3 linked regions of the Homo sapiens genome follow. The protein of the gene in region 2 purifies or fractionates together with the protein of the main gene of each other region. This does not show direct contact. Each region holds a gene or a part of one and is shown on either strand. Other genes may lie near its edges.

Evidence for each region.
Region 1: the proteins of TRPM4 (region 2) and FSD2 purify together in Homo sapiens (co-immunoprecipitation; one large-scale study listed by IntAct). This does not show direct contact.
Region 3: the proteins of TRPM4 (region 2) and DHCR24 purify together in Homo sapiens (co-immunoprecipitation; one large-scale study listed by IntAct). This does not show direct contact.

Annotation. Positions count from the first base shown.
Region 1 is NC_000015.10:82,760,862-82,764,584, forward strand, and holds part of FSD2 (fibronectin type III and SPRY domain-containing protein 2), read right to left. Parts: intron 1,418-3,723; coding exon 1,241-1,417; intron 1-1,240.
Region 2 is NC_000019.10:49,164,069-49,167,791, forward strand, and holds part of TRPM4 (transient receptor potential cation channel subfamily M member 4), read left to right. Parts: intron 1-1,972; coding exon 1,973-2,147; intron 2,148-2,153; exon of another isoform or gene 2,154-3,110; coding exon of another isoform or gene 3,111-3,723. UniProt on the Homo sapiens protein: Calcium-activated selective cation channel that mediates membrane depolarization. While it is activated by increase in intracellular Ca(2+), it is impermeable to it.
Region 3 is NC_000001.11:54,863,196-54,866,695, reverse strand, and holds part of DHCR24 (delta(24)-sterol reductase precursor), read left to right. Parts: intron 1-1,249; coding exon 1,250-1,393; intron 1,394-3,500. UniProt on the Homo sapiens protein: Catalyzes the reduction of the delta-24 double bond of sterol intermediates during cholesterol biosynthesis.

The sequences.
Region 1 (3,723 bases), on a different chromosome or scaffold from region 2:
TTACCCCCTTTATTCTTCCCTCTACACGTGGACTTCTAGGCTTTCTTTATGCTCCCTTAGTTTTACTCTGCCCCTTGTTCTTGCCTTTCTAAAGAAGAGACTTTGCTCTTTAGTCTTACTTCAGGCAGAATCCCCAAATAAAGTATCTGCCTCAGTGTATAGTAATTCTTGGATTCCCCAAACTGGGTGTGAGGTTTAGTAGATTTCATTAGAGTCTTCATCTGTTATCGGAGGGGAAGTTGGTTTTCCCACTTATGCTTGGGCATGACACATAATGTGTAAATAACCATGATAGAGGATCATGGGCAGAGAGCATTGGATGAACATTAATAGGATTCATCAAATCAAGGAGGGTCAGAGGCCCCATTTTACAAGGTGTGATAGGAAAGCAGTGTGGGGTCTTGTTTTTCAGTTTTTGAGGTGAAGGAAGGTTGTAACCATGGCCTTCTAAGTCTGAAAGTGTATTCATTGGCCTGGGCTTCGTGAGACTTTTTTTCCCACTATATGGAACTACTCCATGTGTAAAGACAGAGTGCCCAGCAGCAGGAGCAAACCAGAATTAGCCATAACTACTAAGCCTCTTGCCCACATTTACTTAAAAAGATGGAACTGGGGCTTCAAAGCAAACTGTATTGGCTTAATACTAAAGGTGAACAGAAATGAAAAATCTATCACTTAAGTGGTTAGGAATGAAATCTTTGGAACCAGACTGCTTGAGTTTGAATCCAAGTTCCAAATCCATGTCGTTTGGATTATCTAATTGCTGTGAGGTGTGGTCTTCTTATTTTTATTCTTTTATTTTATTTTATTTTTTTATTTTATTATTTTTTTTTTTTTAGAGACGGGGTCTTGCTATGTTGCCCAAGCTGGCTTTGAAGTCCAGGGCTCAAACAATACTCCTACCTCACTCTCCTGAGTAGCTGGGACTACAGGTGCACACCACTGCACCCAGCATTCTGATTTTTCAAATGAGATAACACAATTGTGAGAAGTAAATGAGATAATGCATGTAAGAGTACTTGGCACATAATTCTCCATAAATTTTAGCTATTTTTAGTTGAAGAAAAGCTGCTCTTTCTCCTCTTACTTGGACTTTAGGGAAAGTGGCTGGCAGCAACTCCTGAAATATCTTAAAATATTTGTAAAATATAACGTGTGTCTTAATTATTGCTAGTGAAAAGGTCTTGCTGTAATCTTTCAAAAGCAAATTTTAATTGTGAGTATCCAGATTTTACTTTACCTTGATGATGCAAATGTGTGCCTCATGCACCAGGAGAGGCAATTTGCTCCCAGATCCTCCTGTTTACGGACATCTGCAAAGGCCACACCAACTCTGTAGTCCAAATGCTCATCCACCTCCACCTCCCAGTAATGGTGCCCTCGGACTGGAATTAGATTTCCCATGACAGCAACACACCTGGTTTTAGAAAGTGGAAGCATGTGTGATCTGGGGTGCCCCAAGCCTGGCTGTGCAGGTCAGTGATGCCAGTTGCTGGGATCAGTCAGTCGGTGGTCTACGAACGTGGTGGTAGGTGCTTCTGGACACTTAACTTGTAAAGTACCCTTAGCTCTCAAAGCTCAGTGGGCTGATACTGAAGATTTGAGATTATGTTACTGCTTGGTAATGGGAGAGGAGGAGGCACTAAACCAACAGAACAAGTTTTGTTTGCTCTTTAAAATGGTTGGGGCTTTCATAGAAAAAGGTTTGGTTCACTTGTTCATAAAAAAAGAAAAGGGTTGAAAATACACAACACAGCACGGTTAAGGGAACCATAAGCTTGAAGTTCACCACCATTGCTTATGGTACTAAATGAACATGGAAGGCCTTTGAGGTAGCCATCATGTTAGGGATGACTCCTGGTGGAATTCAGAGGCCAGCCCAAGGAGAACAAGATAGCAGATTCCTCACAGATCATTAAAATCTACCTCCACTGTTGCACTGGGAACAATTATACTGACAAAGATTAGAGTTATGTTTTGTTCTACATCAGCAAAGTATCAACAGAGGAAGGTTTTCAGTGAAAATCAAATTATACTGGTATCTCCAAAGTGAATATTCTACCTTCTTCAGGAGACTCCTACATTAACCAAAATATATATAGACCTCAACATCCCTAGAAAGATTTGTTCAGTTTAAAATTTTCTCTCTACTTTCAAAACCCCAAGTTCTTACTGCTCAAGCAAAGCTTTGGGAAGGAGGTTGCATGTTGGTTAACTTCTACCTCGGTTACCTCACCTATAAAATGAGGCCATCTCTGCTTCAAGCTCCAGACTCACATTTCCACTTGTTGTTTCAAATTCAGAATGTCCCAAATGGAAAAAGTCATATTCCCACCCCTCTTATCTACCAAAGTTTGGGGTGTAGTGGGGAGGGGTACATACTTCTCACATCTCCATTTTGGTTAATAGAGTCATTATCTACCCGGTAACCCCCTGGTGGAAAACTAAGATGGGAATAATGTAGTGGCTACAAGCTCACCTTCTAGTTTGATTCCTGCTTCAACCCTTAATAGCATTATACTCTTGGGCAAGTTACTTCTCTGTGTTTTAAGTATTCTCATCCGTCAACTGGGATTGGTAATAGTACAGGGCTGTTAGGATGATTGCATGAGATGAAATACATTTAGCACTTGGTAAGCACTCTATAAATATGGCAATATGATAGTCCCTGACTCATCTTCCTCTCTGTTGCCCTTTAAACAGGTGAGCACCTAGCCTTGTTGGTTTTATGTGCTCAACAGCAGTTGACTCCCCTGGCTCCTCTCACCCATGCTACTGCGTAGTCAAGCCCTCCATAGTCTCCTCTCTGGTCTCTGTTTCCCATCTGCCTTTGCCTTTCCCTCTCCCTCCCCAGCTCACGTTCTACCATGCACTGGAATCTTTCTGAAATGTAATCTGATCTTGTTCCCCTGCTTTAAATCCTCCAATAATTCTCACCACATAGAGGATAAAATCCTAACTTTTTGTGTGTATACTGGACTTTCTCCGACTTTCCTGCCTCATCTTCCACCTCTTCCCGTCATGGATCCTATACCGCAGACATACCAAATTCCTTATATTTCTCCAAACATGATCTTTCCGGCTTCTTTCATATGTACATGTACAAAGCAATTATCTGCCTTGAACTTTGGAACAGACTCACTCCATGGCCAGTTTTCCATCAGGAGTTTTGCTGTAAGGTACCACAGTGCAGGAGAGAGAGCACTGGGCTAACTGGTGGGAGACCTGGGTCCTTGTTTCTGTTCTCCCACTAGCCCACAGCATGACCCCTGTGAAGCAGGAGAACAGGGTCTGGGGGCAGGGAACCTAAGGACTTCCTAGAACTAAATTAAACGGAAAAACCCCAACCTTCTAAGTCCAAGTAAATAGCTTTGTATTTCAGCATGGCAGGAAACATCCTCTTCATTTGCATAGGGTGTACACCCAGTAAATGACTTTGTAACTTCACTTTAGCCACTTCATATACATAGGGTGTACACCAAGTAACCAGTGGGAACCTCTAGAGGATATTTAAACCCCAGAAAATTCTGTAACCCGGCCCTTAAGCCGCTTGCTTGGCCCACTCCCACCCTGTGGAGTGTGCTTTCGTTTTCAATAAATCTCTGCTCTTGTTGCTTCATTCTTTACTTGCTTTTTTTTTTTTTTTTTTTTGAGAAGGAGTCTCACTCTGTTGCCCAGGCTAGAGTGTAGTGGCGCCATCTCCGCCCCGCGGGTTCAAGCAAT
Region 2 (3,723 bases):
CACCTCTGCTATCCCTTCTGTAAAATTGCTCTTAAATCTGCTCACTAGGTTTGTGTAAATACAGGTCTCCCCTGATATCTGAACTCCTGGAATCTGGAACAAAGAATTTAGATACATTTTTCTCCTTCTTTCTTCCTTTCTCTTTCTTTTCTTTTCTTTTCTCTCTCTCTTTCTTTCTTTCTCTCTTTCTCTTTCTTTCTCTCTCTTTCCCTCCCTCCCTCCCTCCCTTCCTTCCTTCCTTCCTTTCCTTCCTCCCTCTCTGTCTCTCTCCCTCCCTCCTTCCTTTCTTTCCTTAGTTTTTTTTTTTTTTTTTTTTTTTTTTTTTTTTTTGAGATGGAGTTTCGCTCTTGTCTCCCAGGCTGGAGTACAATAGTGTGATGGCTCACTGCAACTTCTGCCTCCTGGGTTCAACCAATTCTCCTGCCTCAGCCTTCTGAGTAGCTGGGATTACAGGCACCCGCCACCACGACCAGCTAATTTTTGTATTTTTTTTAGTACAGACAGTGTTTCACCATGTTGGCCAGTCTGGTCTCAAACTCTTGACCTCAGATGATCCACCCGCCTCAGCCTCCCAAAGTGCTGGGATTACAGGCATGAGCCACTGCGCCCGGCCTCTTGCTTGCTTGCTTGCTTGCTTGCTTGCTTGCTTGCTTGCTTTTCTTTCCTTCTTTTCTTTTTTTTGAACAGGGTCTCACTCTGTTGCCCAGGTTGGAGTGCAGTGGCGTGGTCACAGCTCTCTGCATCACTGCAGCCTTGATCTCCCAGGCTGAAGTGATCCTCCTGCCTCAGCCTCCTAAGCACATGCTGCCACACCTGGCTAATTTTATTTTATTTTATTTTATTTATTTATTTATTTTTAGAGACAGGGTCTGACTATATTGCACAGCTGGTCTCGAACTCCTGGGTTCAGGTGATCCTCTGGCCCCAGCCTCCCAAAGTGCTAGGATTACAGGCATGAGCCATCATACCCGACCCTACATTTTCAAATGAATTTCTCATTCTCCAAACCCCTGTTACTTACTCAGGTGCCAATCACCTTTAGAAAGCAAGAGAGACTTGTGCATTTCTTTAGGTGGGGGAAAGTTTTATATGTGGAAACTTTCCAAATGGAAACCTGTTCCATTTGGCACAGAGAGGAAGAAACAAGCCACACAGAAGCCAAAGACAATGAAAAGCAAACAAAGGTGTTTCCCTACTCGCTAGATGGCTGTTGCCAGCTCCATTTTTTGAGCCCGAGGCCTGCTTTTCTTGTTCAAAAGAGTAGCAAAGGGTTAGGCATTCAAAAATATTCTAGCACCCGGCTGAGCCTCTCTCCTTGACAGTCGTCAGGAGAACTGAAAAAGGAATGACTTTCTCACTGCGTTATTCAAGGTTATTTTAAGCTCCGTGTGAAGTTCGTGTCGCGTTGCCTCTGGCTGGGACTGGTATGCGAGCCTCATTTCAGGAAACACGGCGTTCTTTCCCTGGCTCCTCATAGCTCCGTGGAGTAGGCCGCGCTATTATTGTCTTTTCATTAGAGGAGGAAATTTAGGCTCAGAGAGGTGAAGCCGCTCGCCCAAAGTCACACAGCCGCGTCAGCCCCGAGCATGCGGGCTCTCCCTGAGTTACCCGCTGGATGTTCTTTCTCGTGTTGAACGTCATGTGTTTGGATGGGGGCACAGGGCACAGCAAGGATACCCCCAGTGGCCCTCTGCCTTCCCACTTGAGGCTCCTCAGGTGACAGTGACCTGCTTCTTCCTGCTCAGGCTTTCTGGACTCACTGGCTTCCTTCCCGTGGGGAAAGGGGACCGTCCTCGGCTCCAGTCTCTCCCCGAGGCCGTCAGAGCCAGGGCCAGGGGCAGCGTGGACTCTGCCTGCCTCTGTGGGTGTGGACTCAGTGTCGACAGCCCCCTCTACAGGAGCATGAACACGCTGACAGGGTGCTGGGGTCGGGGGGCAGCCCTGGGTTCACGCTCCGCCCTCGCACCCCCAGAGGGACCTTGTGCCAGTGTGGGCGCCCCCGGACCGCCCACCCCGCAGTGGCCATGGAGGATGCCTTCGGGGCAGCCGTGGTGACCGTGTGGGACAGCGATGCACACACCACGGAGAAGCCCACCGATGCCTACGGAGAGCTGGACTTCACGGGGGCCGGCCGCAAGCACAGCAATGTGAGGCGGGCCTCTGTGGGCGGGGCCCGGGCACCAGGGGGCTGCATGCTCGGGGCTCCAGAGTGGAGCCGGGACGCCCGCCCTGAACCCTGGCCCCTCCGCCCATCCCTGTCTTGGCTCTCTTTGTCCCCTCCGCCCCACCTATCTTCTCTCTGAGGGGGTCCCGTTCTCTCTGCGTCTCTTTGTCTCTGTCTCCCTCTGTCTCCGTGTCCCTCTCTCTCTGGGTCTCTGTCCCCCTCTCTCTCTGGGTCTCTGTCCCCCTCTCTCTCTGGGTCTCTGTCCCCCTCTCTCTCTGGGTCTCTGTCCCCCTCTCTCTCTGGGTCTCTGTCCCCCTCTCTCTCTGGGTCTCTGTCCCCCTCTCTCTCTGGGTCTCTGTCCCCCTCTCTCTCTGGGTCTCTGTCCCCCTCTCTCTCTGGGTCTCTGTCCCCGTCTCTCCGGGTCTCTGTTTCCCCTTTTCTGTGGGTCACTGTCCTCATCTCTTTGGGTCTGTGTTTCCGCTTTTCTCTGTGTCTCTGTCCCCGTCTCTCTGGGTCTCTGTCTCTGTCTCTCTGGGTCTCTGTCTCTGTCTCTCTGGGCCTCTGTTTCCCCTTTTCTCTGTGTCTCTGTCCCCGTCTCTCTGGGTCTCTGTCTTCCTCTCTCTGGGTCTGTTTCCCCCTCTCTCTGGGTCTCTGTCCCCATCTCTCTGGGTCTCTGTCTGTTTCTCCGGGTCTCCGTCCCTGTCTCTCCGGGTCTCTGTTTCCCCTTTTCTCTGGGTCTCTGTCCTTGTCTCTCTGGGTCTCTGTCCCTGTTTCTCCGGGTCTCTGTCCCCGTCTCTCCGGGTCTCTGTTTCCCCTTTACTCTGGGTTTCTGTCCCCATCTCTCTGGGTCTCTGTCCCTCTCTCTCTGGGTCTCTGTCCCTCTCTCTCTGGGTCTCTGTCCCTCTCTCTCTGGGTCTCTGTCGCCATCTCTCTGGGTCTCTGTCCCATGTCTCTGGGTCTCTGTCCCTCTCTCTCTGGGTCTCTGTCCCTCTCTCTCTGGGTCTCTGTCCCTCTCTCTCTGGGTCTCTGTCCCTCTCTCTCTGGGTCTCTGTCCCCGTCTCTCCGGGTCTCTGTTTCCCCTTTACTCTGGGTTTCTGTCCCCATCTCTCTGGGTCTCTGTCCCTCTCTCTCTGGGTCTCTGTCCCCGTCTCTCCGGGTCTCTGTTTCCCCTTTACTCTGGGTTTCTGTCCCCATCTCTCTGGGTCTCTGTCCCTCTCTCTCTGGGTCTCTGTCGCCATCTCTCTGGGTCTCTGTCCCTCTCTCTCTGGGTCTCTGTCCCTCTCTCTCTGGGTCTTTGTCCCCGTCTCTCTGGGTCTCTGTCCCCGTCTCTCTGGGTCTCTGTCCCTCTCTCTCTGGGTCTCTGTCCCATCTCTCTGGGTCTCTGTCCCATGTCTCTGGGTCTCTGTCCCTCTCTCTCTGGGTCTCTGTCCCATGTCTCTGGGTCTCTGTCCCTCTCTCTCTGGGTCTCTGTCCCCATCTCTCTGGGTCTCTGTCCCTCTCTCTCTGGGTCTCTGTCCCTCTCTCTCTGGGTCTCTGTCCCCATCTCTCTGGGTCTCTGT
Region 3 (3,500 bases), on a different chromosome or scaffold from region 2:
CGGCAAAGGGTTGCCTGGCTGTAGGGTAGAGCAGGTCAACAAGGGAATGGGTGGGGACTGATACTTCAGCCACCTGTGGACCAGGCACCGTGCTTGGCACTTTCTACATCATCTCTTTTAGTCTTCCAGAAATGCTAAGTAACCTGCCTAGGCTCTGCTAAGTGTGTTGTAAATGGAAAAAGCAAATTGGCAAACAGTACGTGTAAGATGGTCCCATTTTTCAGGAGGCTGAGGCAGGAGAATGGCGTGAACCAGGGAGGTGGAGCTTGCAGTGAGCCAAGATCGTGCCACTGAACTCCAGCCTGGGCGACAGAGCGAGACTCTGTCTCAAAAAAAAAAAAAAGATGGTCCTATTTTTTAAAAACAGTGGGCATATGTATGTAATTTCTAATAGACAAATAACTCCCACAAAGTATGTATTTTTATTGTCATGTTACATGTGAAGAAACAGGCTCAGAGATGACCTGCCTGGGTGTGTCCCCAGCTGCCCACCCTAAAGCTTGTGCTTTTCCAGGATCCCCCCTGCCTCTCCCCGAGAGCATCTGCCAGAATTCATTTATGGATGAGGAAGCTGAGGCCAGGAGAAGCTCAGCCATCCCAAGGCACACAGCACATTGAGTCATGACCATTTAGGGCTGCAGGAGACATCAGCTCAATAGAAGATTTGGGTGTGGGAGCCCCCAGGGCCAGGGAGGTATGAGCCTTATTCATGTGAGCATCCTCCAGACGATGGTGGCTGCCTGGGGAGTGCTGTACCCGGAGGACTGTGGAGCTTGGTCCAGGGACAGCAGGGAAAGTGCCATGACCAGTTGGTGCCATGAGCCCTGGGTTGCACTGAGGGGCTGACCCATTCCCAGAGTTCGTGCTTCCCTGGCCTTGGGGAAGGTGGGAAGGGAGGGAGGGAGGGAATTCCCCTGCATGGGGCACTGCATCAGGGCAGTTAAATGTTTAACTCTGTTAAACACTTGCACCAGGCTAGGCGGGGTCGCTGAGTTCTCTAGACTGTCGGGGACTCACTGTTTGGCCCTGGGCACACACCACTTAACCTCTTTGAGCTCCTGCTCTCTCTGCTAGAGGATACCCGCTGTGCCTAACCTCACCAGCTTTCAAGAGTCTCAAAGGCAGTAATAGACATGAAAGAGCTTTGAAAAGGCCAGGAGTGCTGAACAGAAGCCGGGTGTCGCTGTTACACCCCGATGGTGCTGGGCGCTTGTCTGCAGGCTGATCACAATGCCCTCTGTCATTTCAGCTGAATAGCATTGGCAATTACTACAAGCCGTGGTTCTTTAAGCATGTGGAGAACTATCTGAAGACAAACCGAGAGGGCCTGGAGTACATTCCCTTGAGACACTACTACCACCGCCACACGCGCAGCATCTTCTGGGAGCTCCAGGTGAGGCTTAGGTTTCTGTAGCCCTGGCTCCTCCAGGCCAGCTGGGCAGGGAGCCCGGACAGTTAACACTGTAGCCATACTCTCTCCCTTCAGGGTAAAGAGTGGCTTTGTCCTAAGGAACTGCAATGCCTTCTTAAGCAGCAACACAGTCGTTTCCTTCTGAAGGAACCAACTACCTTCAGTTCAAGCAGCAGGCTCTTAGCAAGCATCTGCTTGGTGCTGGGGAGTAAGCCCCTGGGCCGGTACTTTGGGGAACACAGACCTGTTCCGCCCTTGAGGAAGGGTTAGCCTCTAGCCACGGTGAGCAGACAGATCCCTGCACTGTAAAGGGCCGCAGGAACATTAGTAGGAAGTGGCTAGTTCTGCCTAGGGCTCGAGGTAACAGCCAAGCCTGGCTGTGAAAGGTGAGTGAGAATTTGCTGTTGCATGTGTAGATGGGTGGGTGGATGAGGAGCAGTGACACTTTAAGTGGGGGAAGGTCAGGAAGAACCCCTCAGGAGATGACTTTGTGAGCAGGGACCTGAACATAGGGAAGGCAGACCAGGAACAACTCTGGGGAGGACTCTGGAACTCTGTTCACAGGCAGAGGGACAGCCAGAGCCCAGGGCTTGAGCTGGGCTAACAGGAAATTAAACATTATAAAATGGACAGTTCAGGGTAGTTTAGTACATTCACAGTGTTGTGCAACCACTACCTCTGTGTAGTTCCAAACATTTTCATCTCTGAAAAGGAAACCCTATACCCATTAAGCAGCCACTCCCTATTCTCTCCCCTTTCCCCAGCCTGTGGCAACCACCAATTCATCTTCTGTCTCTGCAGATTTACTTATTCTGGATATTTCACATATATGGAATCATTCAGTATGTGCCTTTTGTGACTGGCTTCTTTTACATAGCATAATGTTTTCATGTATCAATATTTCATTTCTTTTTATGGCGGGATAGTAGTTCATTATATGAGAGACCACATTTTGTTTTGTCACTCATCTGTTGATGGACATGTGGGTTGTTTCAACCTTTTGGCTACTGTGAACAGTGCTGCTACAAACCTTCATGTGCATGTATTTGTTTGAATACTTGTTTTCAGTTCTTTGGGATATAGAACTAGGAGTGGAATTGCTGGGTCATATGCTAATTCTGTGTCTAACTTTCTGAGCAACAACCAAACTCTTTTCCACTGAGGCTGTGCCATTTTTCATTCCCACCAGCAATGTATGAGCGCTCTATTTTTTCAACATTCTCACCAACACTTGTTATTTTCTGGTTTTTAAATTATTAGTATTATTATTATAGCCATTCTGGTGGGTTTATGGTATTGACTTGCATTTTCCTTGAAATTAATGATGCTGAGCATCTTTTTATATGCATGTTAACCGTTTTGTATATCTTCTTTGGTGAAAAGTCTATTTGAATCCTTTGCCACCTTTTAAAATTTGGTCATTTGTCTTTGTTGTTGAGATGTAAGAGTTCTTTGTGTATTCTGGATACTAGACCCTCATCAGATATATGATCTGCAAACATTTTCTCCAATTCTGTAGGTTTCTTTTCATTGTCTTGGTAACGTCCTTTGATGCACAGAAGTTTTTAATTTAGATGAATTCCAATTTATCTATTTTCCCTTTTGTTTGTGCTTTTAGTGCCATATATAAGAATTTATTGTCAAGTCCAAGCCCCTTTGTTTTCTTCAAAGACCTTTATAGTTGCAGCTCTAATCTTTAGGTTGTTGAGTGGGGTAGGAGTCCAGGCTCCATTCTTTTGCTTATAGCTATCCAGGTGTCCCAGCAAGGCTGCATGTGTTTGAAAAACAGCAAGAAGCCTTCGGAGCCAGCATGCCCACGCTGAGCTATGGTGAGGAATGAGGTCAAACAGGCACCAGAGGCTAGATCATATGGCTCCTTGTAGGTTAGGAAGGACTTTATATTTTATTCTAAGTATAATAGGAAGCCAATGAGGGCTTTGAACAGGAAAGTGGCATGGCCTGATTTTTGTTTTAAAAGAATAACTGTGACAGCTGGATAGAGTGGATGGGGACGGGAGTGGACAAGAGTGGAAGAGTAGAAGAAAGAAGATACTGTTGTCTGGGCAGCAGCAGAGGAGAAGTGTCAAAT